Linked DNA regions of Homo sapiens: region 2 is linked to region 1. The links come from fine-mapping of genetic effects on gene expression. A gene starts in region 1. The other region holds a variant in brackets. All regions are shown on one strand. Distances are from middle to middle. Region 1 holds the start of BNC2-AS1 (BNC2 antisense RNA 1). Region 2 overlaps LINC03041 (long intergenic non-protein coding RNA 3041).

The links.
Region 2: its variant is fine-mapped to the expression of BNC2-AS1 in thyroid (GTEx, PIP 0.96).

The regions. Positions count from the first base shown.
Region 1 is chr9:16,723,475-16,728,861 of GRCh38, reverse strand. It overlaps BNC2-AS1 (BNC2 antisense RNA 1), which reads right to left and starts at 2,048. Exons shown (of 3, transcript NR_151723.1): 1 at 1,907-2,048; 2 at 1,756-1,831; 3 at 1,338-1,547. BNC2 (basonuclin zinc finger protein 2) reads left to right here. Exons shown (of 7, transcript NM_017637.6): 3 at 865-1,065. RefSeq lists an enhancer at 1,964-2,465.
Region 2 is chr9:16,210,038-16,215,424 of GRCh38, reverse strand. It overlaps LINC03041 (long intergenic non-protein coding RNA 3041), which reads left to right. Exons shown (of 4, transcript NR_171034.1): 3 at 146-209. Among named protein-coding and RNA genes, the nearest start is that of LINC03041, 64 kb to the left of the region's middle. The variant T/C (reference allele first, on the strand shown) is at 2,431.

The DNA.
Region 1 (5,387 bases):
TGCCATTCAGTTTCTCATTAGCTAACATCCAGTTTAGTAATTAATAGCCTGAGGTACTAGATATTAAATAGTATATATTTATATTTGGCAAATGTTTATTGTGCATCTTCTATGTTATAAAAACTGCTAGGCTTATTTGCTTACTCTTTAGAGTATAAGGTCACATCTCTATGTACGTTATTTAGGAGTTTCTATGTGGTTATAAATAGCCCAGCACATACGAGATGACTTTCAGGAGCTAACATTTAGACCATAACTGAGCCAACTTTACATTCTCTTACAGCTGAATATTTTACTTTCTTCAGTGTAATTAAAAAAAAATTTAAGTATCACAGTTTTACAAATGTTAAAGCCAAAGACTGGTGTCAGATATTATGTGTTATATCAGAAAGCATTGTTGAGAAAAATTCCCGGGGAAGGGCCCTAGCTTCCCCTTGCCCTGTGCACCGTGATTGTGGTGCTGCCTGGAGTGTGCATAAGTGTGTATCTATCTGTATATCTGGAGAGGGGTTAGTGCAGGGTGTCATTTGGTGCCTGACAGTGGAACAGTGCAGTTGACTCTTAGCTCTGCTATCCAATGACATGCAGTGGCTGAGAGTTTGAAGCTGATGGTTGGGTCTCCAGTGCCGCCTGCACACCTGACAGGCAGCTGTTAAACTGAGCAAAGGCAAGCTTGGGGAGTCACAATCTATGCATAAATGATAGGGATATCTGTGCAGAAGGTGCGAAAGAAGCTCTGACCCCCTCCCTCCCCCAAATCTCCCCCTTCCCAAATGAAATGCACAGTTCAGCCAGCTTCTTAACTACACTACACTCCTGCTACTGGCTGCCAAGAGGCTCAAAAAATCCACCTTCACTTTTCAGTCAGAAGAGGCAGAAGTGGATGTGAGAGAAAGAGAGACACAGAGAGACAGAGAGCCAAAGAGGGCAAGAGACTTGACTTTAAGAGACTCCTGTACTGACAACTCCATGCAGTTCGGAACCAGAACGACTACGGCTGAACCAGGGTTCATGGGGACATGGCAAAACGCTGATACTAACCTCTTATTCAGAATGTCCCAACAGGTAAGTTACTTTCTTTCTTGATTTTTTTTTTCTTTTTTTTAAGAAACCTTGAATTGTTATGGGCACTTTTGTTTCTGGTGTTTTTCTTTCTAAATACTTTTTAAAATGTGGTCACTTCCTAGTTAGGCTCTTGTTTTGTCATAACTGTGTTACTGGAATGTGCAGGGTTACTTCATGGTTTCCCTAAGGGCGTCTTAAAAGAAAAAGGGGAAAGGATACCGAAGTAAAAGAAAGCAGAGACATTGTTGAAAAGTTTCACAGTACAATCTGGGTCAGGGGAAGACTTAATTTATTTCTTTGTTTTCTGTTGAGAATGAAAAAAGCCACCTCCCAACAAATGTATCTATCAATATGAATCACTTCGTCCAAAGTGTTTGCTCTCTCGGAGTAGGTTCCGCAACCTAAAAAACAGTCATCAAATCTCGGGGCCCCTCAGAACAGCCCTACTGACTTCATGTGGCTGGAGGCAGCTTCGTTCAGACCTGAGAAGAGAGACGAGGCTGTGCAGGCTTGGCTGCCAGCGCCGAGGGTTGCTGGAGGAGTCGGCGTGCGTGGCGGGCTGTGCTGCTCGGTCCTCGCTCCTCCGCTCCGCTCCTCCTTGCCAGCCAGCCCTCTGCGCCCGCCCCTGCATTCCCTTCGCCGGCTCCGGCCCGCTCTCCCGCCCGCCCGCCGGCCCGCCGGCGCACTCACTCGGGCGCAGCCTCGGCGTCTTCCCCAGAGCCGCTCCTCCGTCCCGGCCGCGCTGGAGGCGTTCGGCTTGCTGGCTCTGCTGGGAAAGCCGACGTGGTAGCGCGAGGCCATCGGTTACTGATAATTAATCACCGGAGCCGGCGGCTCGTACCATGCGCTCCGTGATACGCGCCCTGTGCGCCGGTCTCCTCTTGCACAATTGCTGGCTCCTTGGCTCCGCGGGGGAGCGAGGGTGAGAGGAAGCGAAGGGGACACAACCCAGAAACTTTCATCTTGGATTGTGCTCAAGTGAGGGAGGGAAGTTCCCTGGTGCCTCCCTCCTAGACACGTCTTGCTTTTCCAAAGCCTACACCAAACCCACACAAAGCAAGTTAGTTTGATATTATCATCCACACACAAAGCAAGTTAGTTTGATATTATCATCCACACAGCACGAAAGTACTATTGACAAATATACTTGGATTTTAAGTTGACGGCGGTTATTAAGAAATGTTGTGCCACTCAAGAGGAAAAAAATACTGCAACTGCTTTTTTTTTTTTTTTTTTTAAAAAGCTTTTGTTTGTAAGAGTTCACGAAAATTAAATACTTTGAGTTAGATATTTAAAGTTGTTGATAATAAAAAAAAAACAATTTGCCAGGCTATAAACTACTACAAGTTTAGAAATACATTTGCAAGCGATAATACCTACAACCAGGGTTTTGTAGCATTTAGCTAGAGAACAGTTTTAGCACACAATTCTAAATAGGATAAATGCATTTGAATAAGGTATATTTTGACATATCCTGTAGAGGGACCCTGATTACTGCTGATACAGTAAGCTGGGATTTAAATGCAATCAACATCAACCCAATAAGTAACTCTTCATGTGCAATTTCCCATTCTTTCAAGTGAAAAGTTCATTTCCACACAGAGATGCTCCTTGTCACTGCAGAGCGCTGTGAGAGGTGTTTTCCGCGACGCATCCCTGCCTGGGTGGCTCTCGCGTGTTGGAATGCAGTGTTTTCGCTAACCTTAGTACCAAATAACTTGTGCTTCACTTTTAAAACTAGATGTCACCTTCAGGGTTTTCCTTGAGTTAGTGGAGGTCGTGTGTGTGTGTGTGCGTGTGTGTGTGTGTGTTAGAAGGGAAGATTGGCTTACGTCTCCCTCTAGCTAGAAAAGAGTTAATAAAACCAGATAGAGATAATGATCAATTGATAAATGGCTATTGAACCACATAGATGGTGTTAGATTGCTTATTTGGCACTAGCCCATTTCCAAGTAGATTTGAATCTAAGGAGATTTTGTCATGGAAAACATTTTAACTAAAAAACAAATAAAGTAATATAAATGATGGGTCAGAATTAGGACAATTTATGATGTCTTTGATCCAGCTGTCTGACTGTGTGGATATTTTGTGTGTACCTGTGTGTGCATATATGTGTAATGGTGAGCATCAGTGATTATATGGAGAGAATAGAAATATAGGGAACTAATTTATGCTTAATGGATGCTATTAAAACTGTATAATATTATGCTATTTATGAAATAGAGTAGTACAACAAAAGGAGAGAAATCACAGTTTTAAATATGTTTTCTTTTTTTTTTGGTTTTGATGTAGTTAGCAATCACTCCTATCCCCCCAACCCACCTTTTTCTGTCATGGTCACTGAATGTTTACCTCTTGTGCATTTTTGGAAAGCATGTAAAAGAGGATATGAGCTTGCATTTTTTTTCTCTTCAAGATGACATTTTAGTTTGTATAAATATTACATAACTTAAGTTCAAACTATGTGAGTGAAAGTATGTGTGCTGTTCATATTTAATATGTTTGTTTTTCTTACCTGTAGTTCATCAGCAATGCTGATTCAGCACGTGTGTGTGTGTGTGTGTGTGTGTGTGTGTGTGAGAGAGAGAGACTTATTGAAATTATATCTCTGATATCTCTTGAAGCCAGCCATTTAAACGAGTATTACTTTCAATATATACAGTTACGCTAGTTTTTGTTACAGGTAAAAGTTTGTCCAGTTTAATCAAATATGTAGAATTCTGTACATCTCATTGCTGAGGCATAAAGAGGTTTCTCTAGATTATGATTATTTTATTTCTAAGTAAAATTTACTTAGCTTATGAAATGAATAAAATTTATTGGGTTATTTTTTTTAAAGTTTTCTTTAATAGTATAAAAACTAATATTTTCCTGATTATTTATTTAGACGTTTGAAAACTCTGACTAGTAGGGCTGCTATAAAAGGTTTCAAAACTGAGTTACAGATAATTTACCATCAGTATTTAACTATAGAGAAAATTGTGGGAAATGTCCATGAATACTGAAATTTAATAATCTAGTTTTATGTGTTCTATTAGTAAACTAGGAAGTAGGGATACAAAAATCTTTGTCTTTTGTTTCATATGAGCAAAGTTGGATCTGCTTAAATGTACATCTTTCATTCTGTCTAATAGTAACAAATAATCACAATCTGAAGCCAATTTAGATTTAGTGGGATGAAGTATGTGCCCCTAAAGTTCAAGTGAAGTCTATTTGACTACATTTTCCTGTGCCTGTACATTTTTTCTTCTATACTCAAGTATGATTTTCTCAAATTATTTCTATGTATATAGCTGAGTATTTGAGAACATTAAAGGGTATGACACTTGTGTAAAGGGAGTTCTTCTTTGGATCAGTTTGATCAGTGACAGGTGGAGAAAGAACCTTATTTTGCCTATTTTAGTTTCACAAGGTACTGTTAAAAGCAAAAAATGAGGCTTGCTTTTCAAAGTTTTTTTTTTAATCACACTTGAGGAGGCAATTCTTCTATTTGTATAAATATTTTGTGCATTTGAGAGAATAGTAAATAAAATTCTTGTAGCTATCTCAAGGGATGTAATAGTCCAGTCTATTTAAAAATCTTTTTAGAAAGGAAACCATAAAGGTATATAGCTATAGCCCACATTTAATGTGTTACTAGAGACATTTACCTTTTATTATTGGTGAGGTATATTTAACCTGTTTCAAATAAAATGTAGATCCCTTAATAAGGTCTTTTTTCATACTTGAGTGAAATACTAAGTTAGGATTATAAATGACTCTCTGCATCATTATGTAGTAATTTAGGATTCACCCGATGATGTAACAAAATTAACAACATAATTTCATTGTGAAACTGTGTCTTATTAAAGAACAACTGTCTGACATTCTCTTACAGTTGCTTTATTTAACTTCATGCAAATATTATTAGTAGTGACATTTTTCTATTGTGCATTAGATTCTCTCATTAGCATGATGTGTTAGTTATCACCAGAGAAATCATTTTTTAGATAGGTGAGGGGCAAACCAAGAAAGCTAAAAATTAAATCAACGATTTACATTAATACCAGAGCGTCTGCTCACCAGAGATATGACAGAGTAAAAGCAAACTTTCTTACTAATATAAAAATCTAGCACCTTTCAGAGAAATGATAAATAAAATATAAGAAATGTATAATAACATTGCTAGAATCCATTTAAAACAGTGCTCAATATGAATTTTCCTCAAGAAATCTTTTTTTTCTATTCATATAGGCCAACAATCTCAGTTTCTGGAATCTATATTTTTAAATGAAAATGTTTTTGTCCCCCCCCCCAATTTTTTTGAGTATTTATTCACTAGT
Region 2 (5,387 bases), 510 kb after region 1:
AAGTTTGGAGTCCAATTTCCTCTTCTGTGGCCCACCCAGCCTCTGGGGTTGAAAGCGTGGCCAGGGAAAGCGTTCTGTTCCCGTACACGCAGGGATGTCTCTGGCTGGGTGACAGCCACTGACCCACCTCGTTTTTGTTCTGCAGGTGTTGGAAAGAGGATGCAACCATCCCCAACAGGGAAGGGTGGAAAATGCTGCACTGTGCATGGGTGAGTGTGCACATGTGTGTATGTGTGGTCCTGGGAGCAAGGGCCGGGCAGGGACCAGTCTGCAAAACAACATTAAGAAACCGAAACATTTTCCACTGAGAAACAGAATTACTGCCCATGGAATTCTTACCCAGCCTGAGAAGCGAGCAGCAGCCCCTCCTTTTCATTAGTTAAACAAAGAGGGTTATTTTTCAAATGAAAACTTTCAGTGTGGAAAACAATCTAATTCCCGGGGCTTTTTGAGAAGTGAGATTCTCAGTGCTCCAATAAACATATCTACGTGGATATGCAGCTGCAAAGGCAGTGTCGGTGCGCTGACCAAACGAGAGGGCAGGCTTGGCCAGTGGGGGACACGGGGACTTAGCTTCAGGCCTCTCATAACAATCCCAGGTAGAAAGGCCAACAGAGGGAATGAACCGTGGCCTGGAAGATTTGAACTGTTCTGCGAGAGAAAAAAAGCGAAAACAAAAATATTTTCTGTAAGTCCATTAAATGATCTCCTTTCTTCCTCCAAGTCAATGAACTCCTTCTGGTCGGAAAATAATCTGCAAACTCAAGCCCTGCTTGGTTCAGTGGGGTGTGTTCCGCCTTATTGAATTCCTGGCCTTCAGAGATCTTTCAAAAAAAAAAAAAAAAAAAACTTGCACCCACTTATGAACCCGTGGGGTAATGTCAGCTTTCTTTTGAGGGGTTCTCTTCATGAAAGCTCCTGGGTACTTGCATTTGTTTAAGAGCGGGCAAGAATAGGAAGGCAGACTGCCAGGGTTCAAATTTTAGCTCTACCACTTAAAAATAGTGTGTGCTTACTCTCTCTGGACCTCAGCTTGCCCATCTGCAAACAGGAGTAAGAACGGTACCTACATCACAGAGTTTTCATAAAGATTACATGAGAAAGTGCTTACAAAGTGCTTACCACAGTTTCTGGACAAAGGAAGACCTCAAAGTGTGGCCATTATTATGAAGTCAAAGGGACATGGCATATGGTCACAGACCTGAACTTTTTAAATTAATAAATATCATTCTTTCAGGTTTCTACTTTTCCCATCTCACTAATGGAAAGCATGTTGTTTAAAAAAATAAAAGCAGACACAAAATAGCCTCTCTTCAAATCAGAGCTTCCTTCTCTAATCAGTCCGTGAATGTTTCGGGGAGTGCTCTATTTAACTTGGCTGGCCCCTGGTTTTGCCGTGAGTAATACACTGGGCTTCATTTCAAACTCCACACAGCCAAGATCACTGGATACTTGAGCTTCCCCAAGCTGAGTTGATACAGCTGCTCTGCCCCTGGTCACTGGTGAGTTGTCCCTGTGGATTCCAAAAGGTCTGAATACAAACAGGCCAAGGTGCATGGGCCAGCCGAGATGGTCAAGGACATGGGTTCCCACTGAGCAGGTGTCCAGGTGAGACAGACAAGACTGAGGAGGCCTGGGGAGCCCTACAGTGAAGTCAGAAGAAACTGAGACAGACAGAGGGTGGCCAGAGATTATGGAGAGAGGGGCCTCGCTGACACTTGGGGAGACCAGTGTTGCTTGGAGCATCCTTGCTCTTACAAAGGCAGCATAGGTGGTTGAAAGAAACCATCCTGATTTTGACGTTGCCACAATGATAAACGAAGGGCATGAAAACTCTCCAAATTAGGGTCTCTGAGACCAATTAGGTCAGACGATGAAGATAGATTTGCTTGAAAAATAAAATTGAGTATGGCTTTCTTTTAAACAAGGCTTCATTTCAAACGGACCTGAATAAACCAAATTCAATTTAGACATGTTATTCCCCAGGAACTTAGCTCTGGCATGAAATAAGGCTTGCCTGAGGCCACTTGAGAACCGCAGTCTGTGGGACAGCCCTGTGATGGACAAATAGAGTAGAGTGTTAATTTTGAGGCCTGTCGAACCCCAGTGACAGGCGGGCTGGTAAACAGATTGAAGAAGCTAATGACTATTTAGTGCTTTCCAGGACAGGAAATGTCTCTTTGGCTTCTGAGGTAGCAACACCCTTACCTTAAAAGGTTTGGATTGATGATCTGGGCCCAATAAAAGCCCCTTCTGAAATCTGTTGGGAAGCCCAAGCAGCATTTCAAAAGTGAAAGATAATGAAGATGTTCTAGAAGCAATATCATTATAAGTATACATTATAAATGATAATTACAATTAATCATATTAGCCTTCATAATCCCCCAACATTATAACTCAACAATGGTAGATTCATCTTCCTTGTGTTCT[T/C]TGGAAGAAGATTTTTGCCTTGAGCTACACATTTTCTCCTTTAATTTGACTTGTGGTGGTTTCTGCTTTCTGACTGATTCTCCGTCTCCTGAAGACAGGCATGTGATGGGGAGGGAGGTTTGGGAATTAGATGAAGTTGTGGGGTCATGATGCCCGGCAAGTTCTAGAACCCCAGAATTTACTTGGCCCCTGAAGGAGACACTCGAACAGCCCATCTTGTTATTTCAATGCTGTCAGAACTCTTTCTTTCATGCCTCTACATGTGAATCCATGGTCAGGCGTTCCCCAATCCCCGCTGCAATCTAAATCGGCCTCCTCCTTTTATTCTCTCTCATAATTCCCTCTTCTTTCTCCCCAAGCATTAATCATGGTTTTTAATCATTTCTTTATATTTATTTGATGTTTAGCTCCTCATTAGATATGAGCTCAATAGGAGAGGGGTCATGTCTACTTTGATCACTACCTAGCTTTGTGACTGGAATAGGCAGGCAACCTATAAATAATTGTGAATGGAAGACAGAGTGGGTTGCACAGCTTGGAAAAGCATGCCCCTTAGAATGAAGCCCTCTCTTCTTTCTCTTCCCATTGACACCAGACATTTACTATCTCAATATATGCCACAAAGGCCCACAGTGACTTCCCGCATGCTGAGTCCAGTGGCTTTCTGGGTCCTCATCCCTCGGTTGAGTTGTAGAGTCTGATACAATGAACTCTGCCCTACTAGAAAGCCTGCTTTCTTGGCTTCTGTGGCTCCAGGCTCCCCTCTCTGGTCTATGCTCACTGACTCCTTCCTCCTCTTATGCTGTAAAGGGACTAAAGCCCATGGTTCTGGACACAGCCTGATCACATCCTCATGCTGTTGCTTGTTTTGACAGCTCCTCCACTGTCTTGGCTCCAGCCTGCAGCTTTTGACTGGGACCTACAAAGTCAAACATTTCTAACCCTGAAACGCTCTTCCTCTTGCCTTCTTTTTCTTCTCCCAGTCACCAGGCTGGACAACTTAGTGTCTTTCCTCAACATCGTTCCTTATATTTTCCAAATAGTCAACATATGAAAATACTGAAAATATGAATTCGGTGTCTTCTCATTGTCTATGACTCAAATCTCTTGATTGTCCAGACCTTCCCATCTTTTCTCAATTTCCTGCTGCACATTATCCAAATTTCTCTTATGCCAATAATGCCTTTTCTATTAATACTGTCAACATTCTACCTTTCCTTTAAGGTTTATCTCAATTATTTCCCACTTTAAGTCCCCTGTGAGCTTCCCAATCAATTACAATTTCTCCTGCTTTTAACTACCAACACACTACATATCTTTCAGTTGGCATTCTCTTAACTTTTTATTGAATAATGAATTTCTATGTATTTGTCCATATTTTCAGGGAAAGCCTAATAAATAGATCCCTGGAGAGACTGACCTAGATAAATCAAAAGCATAAACTACTAACACACACACTAAAGACATTAAACAAAATATTAAGATGATATTATGAAGAATTTTATGTCAGTGGCTTTGAACATGCAGGTGAAATGGACACACGCCTAGAAAAATGCAAAAATTGACATAAGAAAAAATGGATAATTTGAATATTCACATATTTGCTAGAGAAATTGAATCTATAATGTAAATAGATTCCTACAAAGGAATCTTGAGGCCCAGACATTTGAGTGAGGAGTTATTTCAAACATATGAGGAAAAAAAAAAATGAGTGTTACACAAATTCTTCCAGGGACTGGAAAAAGGAATACTTTGCTACTCATTTTATGAGGCCAGCATTACTTTGATACTGAAACTTGTCAAGGACATTCCAGGAGAAGAAAATTATAGGCCAATCCTTCATTGTAATATAGATATGAAACTCTTGAGCAAACTAGTGGCAAACCAAATCTAGAGATATTTTAAAAGGATCAGATATCATGACAAAATAAAGTTTCTTTTAAAAATGCAAGGTTGGTTTAACACTAGAAAATCAATCAATATAATTCACCACAGAAACAAAATAAAGAAAAACCATATGAACACCTCAAAAGATGAATAAAAAGCATTTGTTAAAACTCAGAACTTGTTCATCACTGAAAATATAACTGGCATCAAATTAGGACTAGAAGGGAACCCTTTCATCTATAAAAGTCTGTACTTAATAATGAAATACGAACACTTCTGCTGGAGACCAGCAACAAGACGAGGATGTTCACTCTTACCATTTCTATGTAACAGTGTACTGGAGGTTCTAGCCAGAGTAGTTTAGACAAGAAAAAGAAATTTCAAAATTTAAGGATTAGAAAAGATACAAACCTGATAGTATCTGTGGACATGATTGTATGCATAGAATCTACAGGTGAATTATTAGAATGAGTCAGCAATTTAGCTAAACTAATGAATATAAAGTCAACATACAAAAATCAGCTATGTTTTTGTATACTGGCAACAAATATTAGAAAATAATACTTTAAATTTGATGCCATTTATAATAGTATTTAAAAAATTAAGCACCTTGTTAGGAATAAATTTAGCAAAATATGCACCTGACCAATGCACAGCAATGCAGAACATTGCAGAGAATAGTTTTTAAAGACTTAAATAAATGAGGAGATATAACATGTAAATTGGATTGGGAGACCCATAGTTGTAAAAATGTTAACGCTCTTCAAATTGGCCTATGCTTCCATGCGATACTAGTCAAAATCCCAGCAGATTTTCTTTCTCTGTCCTTCCTCCTTTTTCCCTTGCTTCCTCTCTCCCATGCACTCTCCCTTCCTCTCTCCCTTCCTTCTTAAAATTGGTAAGCTAATTCTAAAATTTACGTAGAAATACAAAGTGTCAAAAATAGTCAAGACAAAATTGAAAAAGAAGAAAGCTGAAGGACTTGTACTACCAGAGATATCAAAACTTACACAGCCACAGTAATTAAGGCAGTGTGATACTAGTGTAAATAGAGACAAATGGACCCATGG